4 separate regions of the Homo sapiens genome follow, and regions 1, 3 and 4 are each linked to region 2. Evidence: fine-mapped expression QTL. A gene starts in region 2. Each other region holds a variant in brackets. All regions are shown on one strand. Distances are between the middles of the regions. Region 1 overlaps MBTPS1 (membrane bound transcription factor peptidase, site 1). Region 2 holds the start of HSDL1 (hydroxysteroid dehydrogenase like 1). Region 3 holds the start of MBTPS1 (membrane bound transcription factor peptidase, site 1). Region 4 overlaps SLC38A8 (solute carrier family 38 member 8).

Region 1 (5,000 bases), 75 kb after region 2:
CTTCCTTCCCTCAGCCTCAGGTTTTCACAGTTTGTCCACGCCGTAGTGCTGTCAGTGCCGCGCTGCTTCCTGTGTTGGAGTAGTGCTCCACTGGGCGGGTCGGCCACATGGCGTTTCTCCGTTCATCTCTTGCTGGGCATTTGGCTATTCTAGGTGGTACATCTTTCAGCTTTCAGCTTAGATGGGGGTAAAACGGGCGCCTTGTGTAATGTGCACTTCAGTTCTTTGTGGGGTGGGTATCTTTGGTTGTGTTTACGAATTCTGTTTCCTCTTGTATGAGTTACACGTTGATTTCGTTGGCCCATTTTTCTCCTGGAATTGGGATTTTCTCTATCAATCCTAACATGATCGCCCTGTCATAGAGAAATTCACCATTGCTGTGTGTTCAGCAAAATGTTCCTCCAGGTGATGCTCTTTTCCCTTTAATATTACTTACTGTGGTGGGGATTTTTTTCCTTCTGTAAAAGTTTTACATTTCATGTAGTTGAATTTTTATGTTTTGTGACTTTTATTGTTTTGCAGATGGAAACATCATTCCAGAGAGATAATAAAATTTCCATTTTATTTTTCTACTAATTTTTATGTATATGATTGTTAAATATTTAATTGTTTCATCTGTGTTAATTTGATGTGTTACAAGAGATGGGCGAAAGTTTTTCACTTGGGAACCAGTGGCTCCAAGAGCATTCTTTAAAAATCCCTTTTCTTCCTCATTATTTGGGACACCGTATCCTACAGATATTTTTCTTTTTCATACTTTTTTCTTAACCCACTGGCTTACTTGGGAAGTAAGTTCTGGCTGTGTGGATTGTGGAGGGAAATGAGTAATTTAGATTCGTCTGAAATACCGGTTAGTTGCAAGCTCTCATTGACGTCTCTTCCAGATGGCCTCTGCTCACGCTTCCCTTTCTGCTTTTCTCCCACCTGGAGGGTAGAAGGGTGGTCATCTCGCAGCTGAGCCAGTCCTCCCTCCGGCCACCTCTTTCCAGCTTCAGAATGTGACTCGGGACAGCTGGTGTCCCTGTCATGTTACTGCTTTCAATTAATGGGATTTTTTTAAAGCATACAACTAATTGGGAAATAACCTTAAATCTGAGAGTTTTCATCTATATAAGTTCTCTTAGTCAGATGAAGTTTTTCATCAAAGAACTTTTGACAAAAGTTCCTGTTTTATAATAGAAAAAAAATGTCTCCATAAAATTGGAAGCTGTCAGAAATAGTGGTTTCTAGACTTTTCTAGTGATACGTCCGAGGCAGTCCATAGGCTACTTTGGTTGTAGTTACTTAGTATCTGTGTATAAATTTTATTTTTCCCTATTTAGTGAAGTATTTCTCGGAACCAGTTTTGGTAAGAATTGAGTTTTTCTGGTTTCCACGTGTTTTCTCCTGGAGCTTTTCACTTTAGCCTTTGTCTGATTTCTTTTTCCTGCAGCCTGACTGGCAGCCCTATTTGCCACAGAACGGAGACAACATTGAAGTTGCCTTCTCCTACTCCTCGGTCTTATGGCCTTGGTCGGGCTACCTGGCCATCTCCATTTCTGTGACCAAGAAAGCGGCTTCCTGGGAAGGCATTGCTCAGGGCCATGTCATGATCACTGTGGCTTCCCCAGCAGAGACAGAGGTAGGGATATGCGGGAAAGTGGCTTGTTTTCTTAGCTGTTTGACATCACCTTTCAGGGAGGGACAGGCCAAATGCCTGGGGTCTCCATTGGAAGTACAGTTGACAGATAGGCTTATCCTCGATGGCCACAATTGATGGTTCCAGGGCCTCCGGAGCAGCTGGAGTTTGAAGAAGTAGCTCAGTCAGTGAGTGCTAGGGCTTGCCGTTCTGTGGCCACACAACAGCAGAGAAGACTGTTTTCTACCAGATTTCAAGCTCAAAAGGAGTGCACCAAAAATATACATTCTCTAAAAGGAAATGTAGGGTTAATCCTATGAGGCTCTAGTAGTTTTTATTGATAGAATATGCCTTAAATTTTAACTGTTAAACTCTTTAAGTGTTTGAATGGACTTAGTTATGATACATGAATCTTTCATCAGACATTTGTTATTGGAAATTCTTGTGTTCAAATTATTTAGGTTAAGTTGATAAATAGAAATGATGTTTTCAAACCTGAAAGTTTCTTTCTGCACAATGAGGGCGTTTCAAGTTTCTTTTCTTTTTTTTTAGTCAAAAAATGGTGCAGAACAGACTTCAACAGTAAAGCTCCCCATTAAGGTGAAGATAATTCCTACTCCCCCGCGAAGCAAGAGAGTTCTCTGGGATCAGTACCACAACCTCCGCTATCCACCTGGCTATTTCCCCAGGGATAATTTAAGGATGAAGAATGACCCTTTAGACTGGTAAGCACCTCACAGGATGCACTTCACCTCCCCAGCCTCCGTGGTGGGAGGAGGCACCACTGTTCCCGCAACTCTTGGAAAGATGTTGCTCAGCTTCTCGTGGAGCCTGGACTCTGATGACGCTGAGATGTTCAGGCTTTTGCCATGCACTTAGGGCAGCCTGACTTCTCTTTTGAAACTTTCACAAGTATGATTATGCAGTAAAAAGCTTGAAGTTCTCTTTTCCTTCCTTCTCCCATTGCGCCAGTCAGCAAAGCTGTCAGTCTTACCCTCAAACTGCATCCTGGATCCTTCCATCTCTGGCCTTCTCCCTGCTCCCACCCTAGTCCATGCCATTGTCATCTCTTGCCTGGACCACATCAGCAGCTCCTGAGTGCCACTGCTGTTGCTGTTGTTGCCCTAAATTCCACTCCTCTTCTGGCAACCTTGGTAATCTTAAAACAAATTCTAACACAGTTTGCCTCAAGCTCTCCAGTGACTGCCTATTCTGACTTCCTCACCCGGCCAAGCCCCCTGGTGTGACCCATGCAGCCCTTCAGAAGCTGGCACTGCTTCCCCCGCAGTCCCCATAGCCGCTCTCCCTGTGCCTGTTCCCTGCAGGGCAGCTGGGCTGACTTTCTCTTGGTGCATTAGCCAAGCTCATTTCTGCTTTTATGTTTGGACTACGTTTGAACTCCATGCTGAAAGTAGGGGAAGGGGAAGCATTGAAAGATGTGACCAGGATAGTTACAGAGTCAGACTTGCCTTTTAAA[A/G]TAAGATGTCTCTGGCAGCCAGATTGGAGGGGCTCAGACCAGAGACGGGTAGACAGGAAGTGGTGGGAAGTTCATAGACCAAGGCAAGCCCGTTGGCCTGCAGGAGAGGACCTGGAGTCTGTGCTGCTGGGAGGTGAGAATGAGGTGACCCCTAGAGGGTGTATACAGTGTCCCATAGGAAAGTGAGCTCATTTGGGAGGGACGGGGATGGAAAGTTGACCAGTGGCAGTGATATCAGTTAGCTGTGCCGCTGTCTTAGCACCGTGGCCCTGCGTGGCTTGTTCCAGCGTCCCTGCACTCCCGCGGCTATTTGCTAAGCTCTTCTGTCAGACACAGATGGTTGCCAGCAATTTACTTGAACGCGACTGCTACAGTGATGGTCCAGGACACATTAAACATGTCTTTGGCCATTTCTTCTGGTCATTTTGTCTCTTTCATGCACCTGCCAGGCACATGGTTTCTTCTTATCAGCCATTTCCGTGTGTCCAGACCAGAGCACACAGGTCTCCTAAGCTGATGCCTGTGCCAGTGGGCCAGCCATCCAGGCCTTCTCTGTGGGCCATGGCATGGTGCTCTTGCAGAGCCGGCCCTGTGGCCAGATATGCCTTTATTGCCAGTAAAGATCGATCATTTTAATGCTGTGGCCTATTGTTTTTCAGGAATGGTGATCACATCCACACCAATTTCAGGGATATGTACCAGCATCTGAGAAGCATGGGCTACTTTGTAGAGGTCCTCGGGGCCCCCTTCACGTGTTTTGATGCCAGTCAGTATGGTAAGTGGCACTGCTGTGCTAGCCAGATGGTCTTTCCGCCCACTTTGGATGTTTGTTAAATGTCTGAGGAGTGAATCCCAGTTTTCAGTGATAGCTACCAAGGGAGTATGCGCCGTGGGCCCCACAGCTGGGTGAGCCTGGGGCGAGGCTCTGAAACAGGTGGTGGCGGTGTGACATTCAGCTGAAATACAAGACAGGCTGATTGGAGACAGGGACATTCGTACTCTTTTTTCTTTAAGTTAAAAGCAGCTCTGCTATATATTTTGCTCCTTCTCAAGTGAATGAAAATCTTTATCCTGAGCACCACAAGTGAAATCAGATCACAGTTAGTCGCTGTGTATTGCTGGATCCTGGTCCTCTACTTTTTAGTCCCTTTTAAAGTGGTACAGGGTGGCACAAACCAGACTGTTAGGTGTCAGTAACCTGAGACATGTACCTGGTGACACTGTTTCTGCCGTGGTGGTGTCCTGTCATTCAGAAGTGACAGTTCCCAGCTTTGGTTCTTTGTTCATCAGGCACTTTGCTGATGGTGGACAGTGAGGAGGAGTACTTCCCTGAAGAGATCGCCAAGCTCCGGAGGGACGTGGACAACGGCCTCTCGCTCGTCATCTTCAGTGACTGGTACAACACTTCTGTTATGAGAAAAGTGAAGTTTTATGATGAAAACACAAGGTACTGTTGATACGCATTGGTATTTGGATAAGACTTTTGGGGAATCAAATTCTACCCAGCAAATACTTAAGTGATGATTTGACCTGTTGGTGGTCTTTCCAGTTGGCACAGACACATTCAGAGAGCTTGATTAGAAAAAAAGCCCTTTCGACTGAGTGCGGTTGCTCACGCCTGTAATCCCAGCACTTTGGAAGGCTGAGTTGGGCAGATCGGTTGAACCTGGGAGGCCAAGGCTGCAGTGAGCTGAGATCAAGCCACTGTACTCCAGCCTGGGTGTCAGAGAGACCCTATCTCAAAGAGAAAAAATAAAACACAAAAAAGAAAATAGTCCTTTATACAGTAGAGAGGTTCTTGAAAGTTGCTCATAGAGTAAGATGTTTATTGAGTATGAGTACTGTTAATAATATAGAGGGTTCATTGTCTTTCCTTGTTAATCTTAGATATGAGATACTTCAGGT
Region 2 (5,790 bases):
ATTAAAAAAGACTTCAAATAAATATGATAAAATGTTACTCATTTTCAATTCTTGCTGGCAAAACACGGGTATTTGTTTTAATGTTCTTTGTTCTTTTGTCTTTTAAAAAATTTCTGAAGCCAGGTGTAGTGGAGCATGCCTGTAGTCCCAGCTACTCAGGAGGCTGAGGCAGGAAGATCTAGCCTGGGTAACATAGTGAGATTCCATCTCTTAAAAAAAAAATCATAAAAAGGAAAATCACATGAAAAGAAACAAAAATAGTGAGAATATCTATGATAACAATAACATGAGCACATTCAAATGAATAATTTTTTTAAAGGTCATTCAAAATTGGCCAATTCAACCGCACTTAACTTTAAGAGCTGTTGTCTGCTGCTTTCTGTGTTTGTGTGGTCTATTGAACAAGACTAAAGGCTGTGCGTGTGGGGACTGGTTCTTAAACTCATCAATTTTGCATAGAATGCCCAGCCACAGGAAGCAACAGATAAATGTTTGTGGAAAAAATAAAGAATAAGCGCTCAATATATAAATATTAATATGTAATTAATAACAAGAGCTACCATTTAATAATGGCCCACTATATGCTGGGACATTTAATTATAATTCTCTCCTTATACTCCTGTATAATTATTCCAGCTTACAGATGAGGAGACTAAGGCTCCGAGAGGTTAAGCTCTGGGCCAACAGCCATAAAGCTGGCCAGCTGCTGAGCCTCAACTTGAACCCAGTGTCAATGGCTCCAAGACCAGTGTCTTTCCACTGAGTAATGCCAGTTCCCTATGGCTCCTCATACAAGGTTCATCTGGACAGTTGATGCTTAAGATATATTTGTTGCCTGGAACACAAATCAGCTGGTTTATTTGTTGCCTGCGTTCAGAAACTGGAACACAAATCAAGTGGTTTTTTAATGTAATCACTAAAAGGTTTCCTTTAGGGCACCAAGTCTAGTGGGAGCAGAAGCTGAAGCCAGGCTTCCTTCTTTCCTTTTTTTTTTTTGAGACGGAGTCTTGCTCCATTGCCCAGGCTGGGGTGCAGTGGTGTGATCTTGGCTCACTGCAGCCTCAGCCTCCCCCTTGGCTCACTGCAACCTCTGCCTCCGGGGTTCAGGGAATTCTCCTGCCTTAGCCTCCCAAGTAAGTGGAATTACAGGAGCACGTCACCACGCCCTGCTAATTTTTGTGTTTTTAGCAAAGACAGGGTTTCAATATGTTGGCCAGACTGGTCTCGAACTCCTGACTTCAGGTGACCCACCTGCCTCTGCCTCCCAAATTGCTGGGATTACAGGCGTGAGCCACCGTGCCTGGCCATGAAGGTTATCTTTCAAGTCCATTCTGGCAAACTTTGGTGAGGGGATCACACACTGACCCCAGAACCAAGTCTTCATTCGGACTCTCTACCCTAGGTCAGGCACTGGACTAGACTCCAAATTCAATCAAGATGTCTTGCCCTGACACAACATGCAGTCTGGAGGGAGAGAAAGCCTTTGATCTTACATAGTGATAGCAATAAAGGGACACATTTAAAGCATCAAAGTTGGGACCAGGGAGAATAGCGTGGTGGGTTAGGGCTGGGGCTCTGGAGACCCAGACTGTCTGGGCCTGAGTCTGGTGGGTTTTGTTTGCTTGTTTGTTTGTTTGTTTGTTTGAGACGGAGTCTCCCACTGTCGTCCGGGCTGGAATGCAATGGCGAGATCTTGGCTCACTGCAACCTCCGCCTCCCGGGTTCAAGCGATTCTCCTGCCTCAGCCTCCCAAGTAGCTGAGACTACAGGCGCCCGCCACCACGCCCAGCTCATTTTTTGTATTTTTAGTAGAGACAGGGTTTCACTATGTTGGCCAGGCTGGTCTCGAACTCCTGACTGACCTGATGATCCGCCCGCCTCGGCCTCCCAAAGTGCTGGAATTACAGGCGTTGAGCCACCGCACCCGGCCAAGTCTCTTCTGTCACTGACTAGCCGAGGGTTATCTGTTTGGTGCAAGTTTTGTAACCTCTTAAGTATGTTTCCTCCTCAGTACGAAATGGCGAGAGAAGCCCCTACTGCAGAGCGTTGCTTGCTACCATTATTATTATTGTTATTATTTGGCTGTGAAGATCGGGTATGTGGTGTGGGAAGGGGGCTGGAGCGCCTAGCCGTGTCTGCCCCTCGCCCACCGCCCTCCCTGGGGGGCAGTCGGCACCTTCCTTGCAGCCCCCTCGGCCTGCGCTCCCGTGGTCACCCGCAGACTCCTCCACGCCGGGCTCCTGCGCGCAATCCAGCTCTGCTGCACCACCTGTCGCAGGCTCCGAGGGCTCAGGGTGCATGTTTACTTCGGCGACACCGAACGCCCCGCAGCTTTGGGGGGCCCAGGTTCGCGGCGGACGTCGCTACGGCCCCAGCCCAGCCAGAGAGTACCCTCTTTCCTTCTTCGCCAGCCGCTGGCGCCCTAGTCTTTACAGCCCAACGCTTCCCCGGTCGCCCAGGCAACCGCTGCGCACGCGCACTCGGGACGGACCGGCGCGCTGGGGACGCCGGGGGGTGGGGGCGGGTCTGAGACGGCTCCGCCCCCGGCGCGTACGCGGGTCACGTGAGGGCGCGGCGCGGCAGCAGCTCCGGCGGCCGAGACGGGGGCGGCGGCCGCGCGGGTCTGGCGGGACCGGTTTGGAAGACTTTGCCGGCCTGCAGGTACCGCGCCCCCCGCGCCCTGGGCGCCCTCTCGCGGTCCTTTCGCCCCAGACCCCTCCTCGGTCCCCTCAGCGCCAGCCGGCTGCTTGGCGAGACCCCTCTGAGCTCTCACCACGCCCCCCAGGCCCCGGGCCCCCTCCGCTGCATCCGGCCCCGAAGCCCCTTGGCGCCCCTGACCCCAGGAAATCTTCGTCCCTCCGTCCCGTGAGACTCCTTCCTTCAGACCAAAAAGCCCCAGCCCCGCCCCTTCACATCTCAGAGCCCCCCTTCCCCCGGCTCCATCCTCACGCCCCCCGCCGCGGCGCTGCACCCCTGTTCTCTCTCTTCCCCCGGGCCTTGCCCCCCAAACCGCGAACCCCGTTGTCGCCGGCGCATGCCCTGCCCTCCCTGCAGCCTCTCACCCGGCTCCTCCCCCGAGCGGCCCCAGCAATCGCCTCCTTTGTCGGTGCTTCTTTATTCTCATTTCTGAACGATTTGGTTTGAGTTGTTGTTGCCGTGTTTTTCTAAAATGGAAATATGCAGCGGTCGTGGGTTCAGCCAGGATTTCCGAGTTTGCTCGTGTTGACTGGGCCTTGCCGGGTGCTGGAGGGGAAGGGCTGGGAAGAAGAACCAGGCAGGTCCCCGTTCTGAACGTGCCACCCAGACGCAGCCCCAGAAACCGGATCGCTGCAGCGCCCCTCGGCGATCCCAACATGATGTGTACAGGTGACTGCGAGGCAGTCGGGGGGTCTCACAGTGGGCTCCCTGGACAGGACTCTGCGCCTTGCTATACCTCCATCTGAATTGCAGGTAGCCCCTTTCTGAGTTGTGGGGTCTTGGGTGTGCGACTTTACATCTATAAGACTCAATTTCCCCATCTATAAACGGGAGAGTCTGACTGCGCTTTATAAGATTAATGAGAGAATAAAGTGAGACAATAGGAATAAAGCACTTAGCAGAGTCTTTTGCATAAAGTGAGCTCTCAATTTTACTCTGACCGCCACAGGAGAGAGAGAGAGAGAGAGAGGGAGGGAGGGAGAGGGAGAGGGAGGGGGAGGGGGAGGGTGTTGATTGATTGATTGATTCAGACAATCTCGCTCTGTCGCCCGGGCTGTAGTGCAATGGTGCCTGCGATCTCAGCTCCTGCTACCTCTGCCCGCCATCCCGCACCCCGGGCCCAAGTGATTCTCCTGCCTCAGCCTTCCGAGTAGCTGGGATTACAGGCACGTTCTACCACACCCAGCTAATTTTTTTTTTTTTTTTTTTAGTAGAGACGGGGTTTCGCTGTGTTGGTCAGGGTAGCCTTGAACTCCTGGCCTCAAGTGATCTGCCCGCCTTGGCCTCCCAAAGTTCTGGGGTTACAGACATGAGCCACTGTACCCGGCCAAGTTTGTGGTTTTAATCACTGCTGGAATATTCTAGGGCAACAGAGTTGAACATATTGGTGCTACTTTTTTTTAAAGTAGGTTTTCAAAAATCGAAATGACTTACGCATGACATAAAATTTATCATTTTAGCCATTTTACAGTGTATAACTCAGTAGTTCTTGCTATAGTCACAATGCTATGCAACCATCACCAGTAACTAATTCCAGAACATTTAATCACCTACAAAAGAAACCCCAACCCCATTAACAGTCATACCTCTTTTCTCCCCCTGTCCCTCAGCAGCCCTAAGTTATCTTCTGTCTCTATGGATTTGCTTATGCTGGACATTTCATACAAGTGGAAACATACAACATACGGCCTTTTGTATTTGGTTTCTGTCCTTTAGCATAATGTTTTCAAAGTTTATCCATGTTGTAGTATGTATCAGTACTTCATGCTTTTTTATGGCTGAATAATACTCCTTTGTGTGGATAACACCACATTTTGCTTATTCATTCATTTGTTGATGGACATTTTGTTTGTTTCTGCCTTCTGGCAGTTGTGAGTAGGCCACTGTGAACATGCAAGCAGGAGTTTTTATGTGAGCAAAAGTTTCTAATTATCTTGGGTATCTGCCTAGGAGTGGGGTACTCTGAATATTTTAATTCTTACTGCATAAATACAGACATGATGGTGAAGAGTGTTGGATCTTGGATGAGAATCCAGGTTTCTAATTCCATGTTGCTGCTCTTTAGGCTCAGCTTCATTGTGCGTTTAGTCCTATACCAAAAATTGGCAGTGAAGGTAAAGACATCCCAAAAAGTCTTGATACACCAATGCTAACTTTGTCATAGTGCTGACGCAGAGTATGAAAAGCTTAAGTTTTTTTCTCAAGAGTGAAATTTGAGCTTTGAACACAAAGCAGTATTTGATTCTGTTTATTAAATAAAGTTGTCTACAGCAGCATGTCAGGTGCTGAGGAGGAATATTAAAGATGTGTGAGATCCGGCCGGTCACATCCCAGTGCTTTGGGAGGCCAAAGTGGGCGGATCACAAGGTCAGGAGTTCAAGACCAGCCTGGCCAATATGGTGAAACCCCCGTCTCTACTAAAAAAGAAAAAAATACAAAAATTAGCCAGGCATGGTGGCACACGCCTGTAGTCCCAGTTACTTGGGAGGCTGAGGCAGAAGAATTGCTTGAACTTGGAAGGAGGAGGTTGCAGTGAGCTAAGATCGCGCCATTGCACTCCAGCCTGGGTGACAGAGTGAGACTCTGTCTCAAAAAAAAAAAAAAAAAAAAAAAGATGTGTGAGATCCCAGCCTCACACCATCACAAAACGCCAGGAGGATTAAAGACTTAAACTGAAAAAGCAAAAATGTAAAATTTCTAGAAAATAATTCGAAAAAATTTCTTCATGACCTGAGGCTAAGGAGGGATTTCTGAAATAAAACAAACCCTAAAGCAGAAAGATTGATATATTTGTCTCTTTCAAAATTAAGACATTCAGCCAGGTGCAGTGGCTCCCACCTGTAATCCCAGCACTTTGGGAGGCCAAGGCAGGTGAATGGTTTGAGCTTACGAGTTTGAGACCAGCCTGGGCAACATGGTGAAACCTCATCTCTACACACACAAAAAAAATTTAACTGGGCTTGGTGGTACATGCCTGTGTCCCAGCTACTTGAGATGCTGAGGTGGGAGGATGGCTTGAGCCCGGAAGGCGGAGGTTGCAGTGAGCTGTGATCATGCCACTGCACATCAGGCTGGGCAATAGAGCCAGACCTT
Region 3 (5,731 bases), 27 kb after region 2:
AAGAAGGAAAAAGAAATTCATGCTAGTTTTGCTGTCACACCTCAAACTGCCAAAGTTCCAGCCACGGTGAGTCCCAAGACCATCCACCGGAGGTCTTGGAACATGTCCCCTCGGATAAGGGAGCACTACCGTAGGCACTGCAGGCTGTCACGGTGTTGTCGAGGATAAGGCATGTGTGACACTGTTGTCACACAGCTGATACCCTAGGCTGTGCTTGTTGGAACAGTTTACCTGCTCACTGACCCAGAAGCTGGGGATGCAGGTGGCATCCTCAGCCTCCTCTTGCCTCACCAGCCCGTGCTGTGTAGCTGCTGCAGCATGTCACCACAGTGGCATTGACCGTCTGTCCCATTCCCTAAGCCACTGGTTCCTCTTTTTCCTGGGGCTGCTCAGGCAGGGGTTCTCCATGCCTTGAGGATCACAAGAAGCTTGCAGTTGCCAGGGTCCAGGCTGTTGGCAGGGATTGAGAACCTCAGTGCGATGGGAGGCAGATGATGGGGAGATGGGAGGGGCTGGAGCCAGATGTGAAAAACCCGTTATTCAGCAGCTTCTCAGGGGTTTGGGAGTGCTGTCGGATTTGAAGTATCTTCTGGATGAGGGAGGTGGCCATTGGGTAGCTGTGCTTGGGAACAGTGTGTGTGTTCTTGACCAGAGGTAGGTCTCTTAGACAAGAGGTTTCAGAAGGTGGTTTGCCCACTAACAAGGTATATGTGATGTACCCAAGGGACCACACATCCACCTTGAAACGGTGCCCTTTCTTTCCCAGCACCCTGGGAGTTACATAATCAGGAGTCCCACCCAGGGTCTTCCTCTGCCTTCCATCATGTTCGACTTTGGTTGCCAGTCCAGATCTTCCCGTTTTCACCTCCAGGTCATCATTCAGGAAGAGGGGGTACAGCTTGAGGTCCCGGTGACTAATCCAGTTTCAGGCAGGTGCCGGCAGCCAAGGATGATCTACTGCGGGCAGTAGTGCCCTCAGGCTTAGCGCTCTCCCCGTGTGCAACTCCATGAGAGGTCTCAGGTGGCAGAGCTCCAGCACCAGGAGCATGAAGTTGTCCTTGAAAAAGCCACTGACACCTGAGATGTGCTGGTGGGCGAGGCTGCAGTGAGTATAGCGAGAGGCTGGAGACGTCTCCAGGGACGTCTCCTCTGGGTGCGGATTGAGCAGCAGTGACTCAGGTGCGATCTTGCCCGAGAACACCTCCTTGGTGTTTGCCTCCAAGATTTTGATGCTCTCAGCAAAGCCACCCTTGCCAAAAAAGCAGCCTGCCTGTAGTGCCACCGGCAGGTTTACTAGGACCTCCAAGATCTCTGCAGAGTGGCTGCTGGGACTCCAGGAGCCACAACTCCAGGGAGGCTTTCCCAGGGTTGGCTAGTGCCTGTGCCATCAGCTATTACTCTTTAAAATAACATTTCATTTGAATAAAGATTTACCTTCCCATGGAATTACAGATGCTTTATTCTGTATGTGAAGCACAAGTTTAGGAAGTTATTTTAGAACCAGAGTGGTGGGAATCCACCAGTGGTAGACCAGGATCCTGTAGCTCAGGCTGTCTTGGTAGCTCTCCAAGTAACTTCTCTCCCACACACCAGTCCCCTCAGTGTATAGGCATTCTCTGAAACTGGTGGTGGTGGCATTCTCTCCCCTTCTTTGGGGCCTCGCTGTCACATGATGGATGCCTGCAATCACTGTTCTACCCCAGTTTCCAGCTGTAGGGCCATGTATTCAATGGCATAGTGACTAAAGGGCTGTTCAGAGAACCCTGACCAAGATTAATTTACCTAAAGTTGGAACAGAAGGACATAGTCAAGTTTAAAATCAAATGCTTTGTGTGGTGGCAGAAGGGAGTGCCTTTGACGGTTTGCAAATGCAGAGAGGCAAGGATTCTCCAAAAGTTCAGAAAATCGTATGAGATCTGAGTCAGGAAAGGATTCAAGAATCCACCACCACATATTGAATCATATAGGAGCCGAGCACTTTATGAGTATGCTTTTTGTTTGTTTTTGAGACAAGGTCTTGCTGTGTTGCCCAGGCTGGAGTGCAGTGGCACAATCATGGCTCACTGCAGCCTCGACCTCCTGGGCTCAGGCAGTCCTCCCACCTCAGCCTCCCTAGTAGCTGGGACTGCAGGTGCACACCACCACACCTGGTAAAAACAAAACCAAACACAACTATAGAGACATGTCTCTGTTGCCCAGACTAGTCTCAAACTCCTGGGCTCAAGTGATCCTCCCGCCACAGACTCCCAAAGTGTTGAGATTACAGGCATAAGCCACTGCGCTAGGGCTTATGTGTGTACTTAATTTAACCCTCATCCTTTAAGGTAGATATTAGTACCCCTATTTTTTAAAAAAATTATTTATTTATTTTTAAGGCAGAGTCTCGCTCTGTCGCCCAAGCTGGAGTGCAGTGGTACGATCTCAGCTCACTGCAACCTCCGCCTCCCAGGTTCAAGCGATTCTCTGCCTCAGCCTCCTGAGTTGCTGGGATTACAGTCATGCGCTACCACACTCAGCTAAGTTTTTATATTTTTGGTAGAGCCGGCGTTTCACCCATGTTGACCAGGCTGGTCTGAAACTTCTGACCTCAAGTGATCCGGCTGCCTCGGCCTCCCCAAGTGCTGGGATTACAGGCGCGAGCCACCCCGCCTGGCTAGTACCCCTATTTTTGTAATGAAGAAGCTGAGGTACAAAGAGGTTAAACAACCTGCTCAAAATTACGAAGTAGAAGCCTGAGGTGGGGTATGGTAATTTGTGATTCTACATTTATCCACCATATTAAGTCAACTGTGTTAAATCATGTTGAAGGAAGATGATGCGCTGTGATCTGTAATATTGGTGCAGTTCAGCATTACCGTGGTGCAGTGTCAAGTTCCAAAAGACACAAAACTGTCTGATCGGCCTGTAGCGCATCACCGCCCACCAGCAGTACCTGAAGACGCTTTCAGTCCCCTGCTAGTGCCGTACGGAGTCCGGGCTGGTCCATTTACATTGAAAACAAACTGATCCTAGCATCTAAGTCACCCAGACATCTTTTAGGCGGCAAGCTTTTCAGACAGTTTAACACATTTATTCTTGTTTTTTCAAAAAGAGCAAACACGTGGCGTTACAAAGGTCCTCCGTTTCGCACGCACCGGTGTCCCGGCAGCGCGCTGCGCGTCGGGAGGCCCAGTCTGTCGTCCCGTGGGGCCGGGGGTCAGGAGGTCGGGCAGGCGGGATTTGGGGTTTCGCGTGTTCCGGACCGGACACTTCGCCATCTTAACGAGCTACCGCCCGGGTTAAGGGGCACCCAGGGCAGGTGCCCGGCCGGGGGTGGGGTGTCCGAGCCGCCGGTGCCTGGACGTGGACCCCTGCAGGAAGGGTCCGCGCGGGAAGCGAGCTCTCCACGAGTCCATGACAGCAGGCCCGCGGGGGCAGGGAGCCTGCGCCAGGCAGTCTTTCTAGATCCTGGCCCAGCCTGGCCGCTTTCGCGCCCGTGCTCCTTTTCGGGGATCCTAGAGCGACGCGCAGAGCGGACCAAGGGTTCCCCCAGCGCGTTCTCGCCGCCTGGCAGCTCGCTGGCCACGCCCCTCCGCTTCCACCCTGCCACCGGCCCCCGCCGCCGCAAATGTCGCGAGACCTTCGTCCATCCTCCCGGCGTGGTCCCGCTGCCCACGGCGTCCAGAGCGCGCACGCAAGCCCCGGGAGCGCGGGACAGACAGGGCA[C/T]GCTGGGTCGGCGGAGCTGAGGCTCCCAGCTGTGGGCCTCGCTGGCCCGGTCGCCCAGTCTCGCGAGAGTTGGGAGTAAACAGCCCCGAATGGAGTGCCCAGGCGTGTTCGCCGCGGAGGCGCCGTTATCCCGGGCCCGCCGGCCCTGAGCTCCCGGCGGCGCAGGTACGTCAGCCGCCCGCGCGCGGCCTCCCCGACCCGCTCCGCCTAGCGGCGGCGGCCCGCTCGCTCAGGTGTGCCGGTTGCGTCCGAGGCCCCGAGGCGAGGGCTGCGGGGGCCGGGCCGGGTCGGGGGAGGTGGGCGCGGGGCCTCCGGCGCTTGTTTGGACACAGCGTGCCTGTACCGCGGCCCTGCGGGGGTCTGCGCGCTCCGGCAGCTTGTTCCGTTGCCTGGTTTTCTTTACGTGAAATGAGCATTCACCGAGTGAAACAATACGCCCTGCTCTGGCCCGGAGCCTCCAGACAGACTCAATTCTAGGTGCGCTTCCGGGGCAGTGCTGGCGTCAGGTTTAAAAGACGTCGATTCTTTGCCTTATCTCGGTCTGTGCATATTGCGCTGCTGGTTTTTGGAAATGCGGGGATTCTGTTCGGCGAACTCTCAGAACCAGATTGCCTTTTAAACCTGTAGCTTCTTAAAAATCTTGCCTCGCCTTGGCATGGTTGCGCTACCTAAGACCGTTGTGGATCGTCAGTATTTTTATTAAGATGTTTACCTTTCATATTGGGTTGAGCCCCTGAGAATCTTGGCCTATTTGTCTACACAAATTAAGTTATTAGATTCTGATTGACACTTCGAAATTACGTGGAGTGGAATACGACCTGCGTTGAATTCTGGAGACTCATCCTTTAGTCTGAACTGTGTAGGTAAGCCCTCCTAACGTCAAGGTCTCCAATTGTATGTCTACGAAAAGGAGGGCTTGCAGAAGAGAAGTAATTCCTCTCATTTTTTTTTTTTTCAATCTGGAGAATCCGCTTTTATTATTTATACTTATTTTTTAATGTAAGAGCTTCATTGAAGTAGAATTTACATACCATAAAATCCACCTGTTTTAAGTGTACTATTCAGTGGTTTTTAGTAAATTTACAGCAGCACAGCCACTACCAAATCCACTTTTAGAACATTTCCGTTACCCCAAGACCTCTGATGCCCAGTTGTAGTCAATGCCCATTTCCAGGCCCCGCCACAGGCAACCTTTCATCTACTTTGTCTTTCTAGATTTGCCTTTAATGACTATTTCGTATATTCAGATGGAAACATATGATATGCGGCCTTTTGTGTCAGGCTTCTTTCACTTAGCATGTTTTCACAGTTCATCCATGTTGTAGCATGAATCAGGATTTCATTCCTTTTATGACCAAATAATATTCAGTTGTATGGCTATACCACATTTTGTTTAAGCATTTATGCAGAACACTTTTGACAAATAAAAGTTTATTTTATGCTCTAATGTGTGATGCGGATGACAGCAAAACTGTTGATTGAGAATGGGAGCTGGGACCTGACCCAGACACGTGTCAAACGACTGCACTCCCCAGGCACCCCGTATAATCAAGAGTTGGTCCTTTCTATATAAAAAGGGAAAATTCCAATGCAGAGCTTGCGGAACCTTTGAAGCACCTAGGGAAGAAGTGGGAGCTCTTCTAGTCAGGAGGTTAACAAGAACTAGGAAGGCTGGGCCGGGCGCGGTGGCTCACGCCTGTAATCCCACAATTTGGGAGGCCGAGGCGGGCGGATCACAAGGTCAGGTGTTCAAGACCAGCCTGGCCAACGTGGTGAAATCCCGTCTCTACTGAAAATACAAAAATTAGCTGGGCGCAATGGCAGGCGCCTGTAATCCCAGCTACTCGGGAGGCTGAGGCAGGAGAATCCCTTGAACCCAGGCGGCAGAGGTTGTAGTGAGCCAAGATCACGCCGCTGCATTCCAGCCTGGGCGACAGAGTGAGACTATGTCTCAAAAAACAAAAAACAAAAAAAAACTTGGAAGACTGAAGGCTAAGGTGAACTGTACATTGCTGCCATCAGTGCT
Region 4 (5,681 bases), 110 kb after region 2:
CAGGATAGGTGGGGTGGGGTGGGGGTGTGTGCAGTGACATAGCTGGTAGACTGCCAACCCCATGTTGGCAGCAGCCCTGGCCTCTGTGGATGAGAAGCCATGTGGAGAGTGTGCCCGAGGGGTGGCTGGCTGGGGGTGGGTGGGCTGTGGGCACACCCCAGTTCCAGGTCCTGCTCCTTCTCCGCAGGTCTCGTTGGTCTTCCTGATCAGCGGGCTGGTCATCCTGGGCTATGCTGCTGCTGTCAGTGGCCAGGCCACCTACCAGGGTGTGGTCAGGGGGCTGTGTGGCCCTGCCATTGGGAAGCTGTGTGAGGCCTGCTTCCTCCTCAACCTGCTCATGATCTCCGTGGCCTTCCTCAGGGTGATCGGGGACCAGCTGGAGAAGCGTAAGTACCTTCATGGGACTCGGGGTGGCCCAGGGTGCCGGACCTCTAATGACCTCTTGGAGTTTCCAGTTGAGCAGGACGTGGGGCCCTGGCCTGGGCCCTGAGGGACAGCAGAGGCTGAAACCACACTCTTGTTCCTAACATGGTAGGGAAGGGAGGCTCCGAATGGATAGTCACCAGTTGGGTGACAGTCATGGGCACACAAGTGCATGAGAGAGGTTGTGGCTGCAATTAGGATATCCAGTGGAGATAAGTCGTTTCACAGATGAGTAAATGGAGCCAACAGCAAGCAGCTCCTTCTGAGAAAGAACCAGTAACACCTTTAGCTTTGGAATGGCTGTGGCTCTGAGCCCTCACCAACCTTGGCCTCGAGTTCCCGACTAAGACTTTCCCTCTAAGCACTGCTTTAGCTGCATCTTGCCAATTTTCATATGTCCTATTTTCATTTTCACTGGACTCATTCCTCATGAATGGAAAATTTAAAATATTTGCTCCTTTTCACTGTGGTTTCTTTGACTTGTGAGATGTTTAGAATTGTAGTGTTTAATTGACAATTATTGAGGAGTTTTTTAGATTCCTTCACGGTTTCGACCTTAATTTGCATCATGGTCAGGGAGTCTGTATCATTGCTGTCTTTTGAGATCCAGTGAGACTGGCTCTGTAGTCCAGCACATGGTCTGTCTTGGAGAACACTTTGTGTGCTCTTCAGAGAATGTGTACTCTGCAGTTGCTGGGTACAGTGTGCTGGCAATGTCCATTAGGTCAAGGCAGTCAACAGCTGTGTTCAGATCGTCATTGCAACCATATTAATCTTTAGGTCTAGTTATTCTATTCCTAAGAGAAGGATGTTAAAGGATGTTAAAATCGCCAGCTGCGATTGCAGATTAGCCTATTCTGTCAAGCTTCATGGTTCGTGGTCTTTGAAACTCTAGGTATATCCTTTTATTATGAAGTATTCTTTATCTCTGGCATTAAATCTGTCTTCTCTACCATTAATAGAGGCACTCTAGCATCCTTAAGACTAGTGTTTGTATAGAAGTTCTCTTCTCATTCTTTGACTTAGAATCTAACTATGACTTGGATTATTTTTTTGTTAAATGTGTTTATATGTCCTTTTTGCAACACCAGCCTGAGAATGGCTTGGGATTTTAAAATGCATTTCTTGTAGGCAGCATATGGTCGGGTCTTGCTTTTTTATCCAACTTGACAGTCTCAGACTTCCGATTGGAATGTTTAGACTTTTAATTGGCATGTGATTGTTGATAGGGTGAAATTTAGTGTACCATTTTGCCATGTGTGTGTTCTGTGTGTCTCTTGACCCATGAAGCAAAAGGCCCCTGACTGGGGGGTATTGAGATTGAAGGCTGCTGTGTCTTGGTAAACACGACCTTATACCAAGAAGAAGTGAGATTGGCGTATCTGAACCTCTTAATGGGTAAGTGGGCACAAAAACGTCCTGCTCCCCCACAGTGGCAAGTAGAGTTCGTCTGCAGTTTCAACTCCACTGAACTGGTAGCGTTGCTGTGTTAAGAAGGATTCTGAGCCTCACTGGGAGCGGAGCCCCCTGACTAGTCAGAGGACGGATGAGGATACGGGCCACCCCAGGTCTGGGTTGATTGACTGTGGTGGAGAGAGCGTTCTTGTGTATATCTGGTTAGATATTTGGGGATGCCTCTCTGTAGGGAAGGCCAAGCTTCTGAGACGGAGTGCTAGATAGAGGTTGGAGTGCTTGGGGGAGTCATGGCACGAGGTACAATTGACCATGTCTTTGGTGCCAAAGATCTCAAGCATCCGGGAACGCTGGGTTTAGGAAGGAGCTGGTACAGTCCTGCTGTTGGCCCTGAGGATCCTGGCTATGGGAGGTCCAGATGCAGACAAAGGGCCTGCCCCATCCCACGCCACCTGGAGGTCTAAAACTCACCCACGATCTCGGTGCAGTCCTGGGGCATGTGCAGTCCCTTGGCATCTCGGCTCTCCCACGTGGATGCTGCTGTGACCACCTGCTTTTGGAACTTTCCCCTTCATCATTTCGTACGCTTGAGCTATTCTCACATGCATTCATTTTTTCACATGGCTCCCCTTGTTGAGTGAGAACAAAGAAGCACTTAAGACACCTCAGGGCCAACAACCCACCGAAGGAGCGAAGACATCTCAAGCTCCTCGGCCTCCCATCTCCAGTGGTTGCAGGGGCCACCTCACCCACCCAGGTGGTTCCCAGTGGCTCCCACCTCCAACCACCCTCCCACTCGCCTGTGCTTTCCCCTCCCCCATCTGTCTTACCTCTTAGATGGGTTCCAAATCATTCATCCCACTGTGGCAGAATAAAAATGGCCCCACATTCTTTGGTGTTCTTTCCACGGAGAGGTTAGTGGAGCTTGTGTCCCTTGCCTTTGAATTAGGTGTGCCTGGATGGCTTTGTCCAGCAATGTGTGGCAAATGAGACACTGCCCATTCTGGGTCTGGCCTTTAAGAGGACAGGCAGCTTCTGCCTCAGTCTCTGGGGTCCCCCAGCTGCCATGGAAGAAGTTGGAGGTGCCTGCTAGGTGGCCCATGTGGAGAGACTCCCAGACTGCAGGGAAGGCCCAGGTGTACCCATCAGGCAGTAGGTGTTGTGGGGAGCCATCAGGGTTCCTCCAGACCAGCCCCACTGCCAGCCAGAGACCCCCCAAGCAACCTCAGCCAATTCTATATGGAGGAGGATTGGCCAGCCTGGCC[C/G]TGTACTAACTCTCTACCTACGATCCATGACTTGTAATAAAGTGGTTTTGAGCCACTGCATTTGGGGTCATGTGTTCTGCTGCAACCATGAGGACCTACAATGCTCATGCACAGCAGCCTGTTGCTGACGGCACGGTGGCCAAAAATCGACTTCAGGCCCCCATTTGACTCCAGATACTATTGAGTTCCCGAACGAAACCAAAAGAGTCTTTCACCAGAATGTAAGGGGCACGAGGGCAGATGGCTTGTCTGGTCATCGCCTCATCTTGGGCCTTAGAGCAGTGCTGGGCTTGGGGAAGGAGCCCAGCGAATGTTTGTTGAATGAATTCATGTGTCAGGGTTTGTTCCTGCGTGGGGCACGTGACCTGTCTCCATCTCACTTGTCGTCTGATCCCTGGGCTCCTGGGGCTGGCTGAGGGTGGATGTCCAACCCCAGCCAGGGTTGAAGGGCCAGGTGGGAGCCGAGAACCCACGGCATTTGTACTCTGTGGCTCAGCTCTCCCCGTGTCTCTGGCAGTGTGTGACTCCCTCCTGTCTGGCACCCCGCCCGCCCCGCAGCCGTGGTACGCAGACCAGCGCTTCACCCTGCCCCTGCTCTCCGTGCTGGTCATCCTGCCCCTGTCTGCCCCGCGGGAGATCGCCTTCCAGAAATACACAAGGTAAGGGCTGGGATGCTGCCTGGTGGGGGCCCCCACCTTGCTGAGTGTTTGTGTCAGGGTTTCTGTCCATCTGGGGTCAGAGGAGCTGGGGAATTGGCCTTCACATTTGGAGAAGGGGAAAACGAAAAAAAAATTATACAAGTAAAATGTATGCATGATGCAAAACATAGATGAGCCTAAAGAAGAAAATGACCTGTAACAACGTCAGTGCTACTCAGTTTATTTCATTGTTGGATTTTTTGCACATGGCTGCAGAGAGAGAGAGACGCCTCCCCACAACACACACCTACCCACACCCACACATACACACCCACCTACCCACACCCCCCCATGCACACCCACCTACCCACACCCCCCCATGCACACCCACCTACCCACACCCACCCATGCACACCCACGTACCCACACCCACCCATGCTCACCCACCCACACATGCACCCCCATCCCCGCATGTCCCCGTGCCCATGCACGCACATGTGTGCACACACACAGAGGTTGTTTTTTTGTGGCTAAGGGTCTGTATACTTAGGAAGAAATAAAGCTTGGAAACAGTATCCATCTCCCTCTGCTGCCTGCCTTTTCCCTGTTGTGTATGAACAATAGACATTGTATAGAAACAGCAGGCAGCAAACCCGAGCCTCCCTCAGGTCTCTGCCCTGCAAGGCTCTCGTGCCACTCAGACCAAGCCAGGGGGCGGCTTGTCCCCTCTCAAGTGTGAGCGAGCCTGCTGGCGTCCTGCCTTAGGCATCAGGCTGAGTGGCTGATTAGCTTTTGCTGGTGGGAAGGAAACACTATTACAGCTGCCATCCCGAAGGGCGCCGGGTGCCATTAAGAATTCTACACATTTGGGCTGGGCGTCACACCTGTAATTCCAGCACTTTGGGAGGCCAAGGCAGGCAGATCACGAGGTCAGCAGTTCAAAACCAGCCTGACCAACACGGTGAAACCCTGTCTCTACTAAAAGTACAAAAATTAGCGAGGCGTGGGGGCGGACACCTGTAATCCCAGCTATTCGGGAGGCTGAGGCAGGAGAATTGCTTGAACCCGGGAGGCAGAGTTTGCAGTGAGCCAAGATTGCGCCACTGCACTCCAGCCTGGGCAACAGAGCGAGACTCCGTCTCAAAAAACAACAACAACAACAAAACAACAACAACAAAACTCTACATCTGACCCCTTGACCCCAAAGCAGCCCTGCCCCACATGCCCCCTGTACAGATGAGGATGGTGAGGCAGAGGTGGACAGCTTGGCCAGCACCTCATTGTCAAGGGCGGAGCTGGGATTCAGATCCCACTACTGTCCCCGTGCATCAACCGCACATGTCACCCACTGCGCAGCCCCTCACACGGTCACTGTGTTAGCATCCTAGGCACTCTGGCTGCCTGTTACCTGGCCCTGGTCATCACCGTGCAGTACTACCTCTGGCCCCAGGGCCTCGTGCGTGAGTCCCATCCTTCACTGAGGTAAGTCTGAGGGAACAGCTTCCGGCAGCCTCGGCGGGGAGGCACGGCAGGGGAGTCTGTGAGGGGAGTCTTGGAGGAGGAGCCTCTCGTGGCTCACTGCAGAGCCTGGGCTCCTTCCTTCCAGTTCTTTCCGTCTCTGATGCGGTGAAGGCAAGGGAGGGCCACTCTCCTTCTGCTGCAGGGACCTGGCCGTGGCTAGCGATGACCGGGACAGGCCAAGGGACGCAGAACCGCCAAAGGCTGCGGCGGCCTAGGGGTCATAGGTTATTGCAGACTTGTCCCCACAGTGTGGAGGTACAGAATCTGGCAGCCATCCAGCTGCATGTACCGGGGCAGGGGAACAGTGAGGAGGCCGGTGTGGCCAAGCCAGCCGGAACAAGGGCAGAGAGCATGGGCGGGGATGTCGTACAGGGATTCAGAGCCACGGCGAGGAGTTTGGTTTTGCTCTGGATGAGTTGGG

Evidence for each region. PIP is the estimated chance that this variant, and not a neighbour inherited with it, causes the effect.
Region 1: its variant is fine-mapped to the expression of HSDL1 in whole blood (TOPMed, PIP above 0.99).
Region 3: its variant is fine-mapped to the expression of HSDL1 in T cells (TOPMed, PIP 0.99). The same link has a PIP of 0.9 or more in whole blood.
Region 4: its variant is fine-mapped to the expression of HSDL1 in whole blood (TOPMed, PIP 0.99).

The regions. Positions count from the first base shown.
Region 1 is chr16:84,067,209-84,072,208 of GRCh38, reverse strand. MBTPS1 (membrane bound transcription factor peptidase, site 1) reads left to right here. Exons shown (of 23, transcript NM_003791.4): 13 at 1,433-1,621; 14 at 2,171-2,343; 15 at 3,755-3,870; 16 at 4,386-4,542. Among named protein-coding and RNA genes, the nearest start is that of SLC38A8, 27 kb to the right of the region's middle. The variant A/G (reference allele first, on the strand shown) is at 3,096.
Region 2 is chr16:84,141,951-84,147,740 of GRCh38, reverse strand. HSDL1 (hydroxysteroid dehydrogenase like 1) reads left to right here and starts at 2,564. Exons shown (of 6, transcript NM_031463.5): 1 at 2,564-2,661. It overlaps DNAAF1 (dynein axonemal assembly factor 1), which reads right to left and starts at 2,433. Exons shown (of 12, transcript NM_178452.6): 1 at 2,177-2,433. The coding sequence starts at 2,300. RefSeq lists silencers at 2,380-2,829, 2,990-3,039, 3,090-3,139.
Region 3 is chr16:84,114,874-84,120,604 of GRCh38, reverse strand. It overlaps MBTPS1 (membrane bound transcription factor peptidase, site 1), which reads left to right and starts at 3,663. Exons shown (of 23, transcript NM_003791.4): 1 at 3,663-3,870. MBTPS1-DT (MBTPS1 divergent transcript) reads right to left here and starts at 3,562. Exons shown (of 1, transcript NR_186375.1): 1 at 1,442-3,562. It also overlaps the pseudogene LOC648774. RefSeq lists an enhancer at 2,933-3,092 and silencers at 3,243-3,342, 3,743-4,172. The variant C/T (reference allele first, on the strand shown) is at 3,706.
Region 4 is chr16:84,031,407-84,037,087 of GRCh38, reverse strand. It overlaps SLC38A8 (solute carrier family 38 member 8), which reads left to right. Exons shown (of 11, transcript NM_001080442.3): 3 at 188-386; 4 at 3,619-3,760; 5 at 5,120-5,221. Among named protein-coding and RNA genes, the nearest start is that of SLC38A8, 8.5 kb to the left of the region's middle. RefSeq lists an enhancer at 3,613-4,113. The variant C/G (reference allele first, on the strand shown) is at 3,102.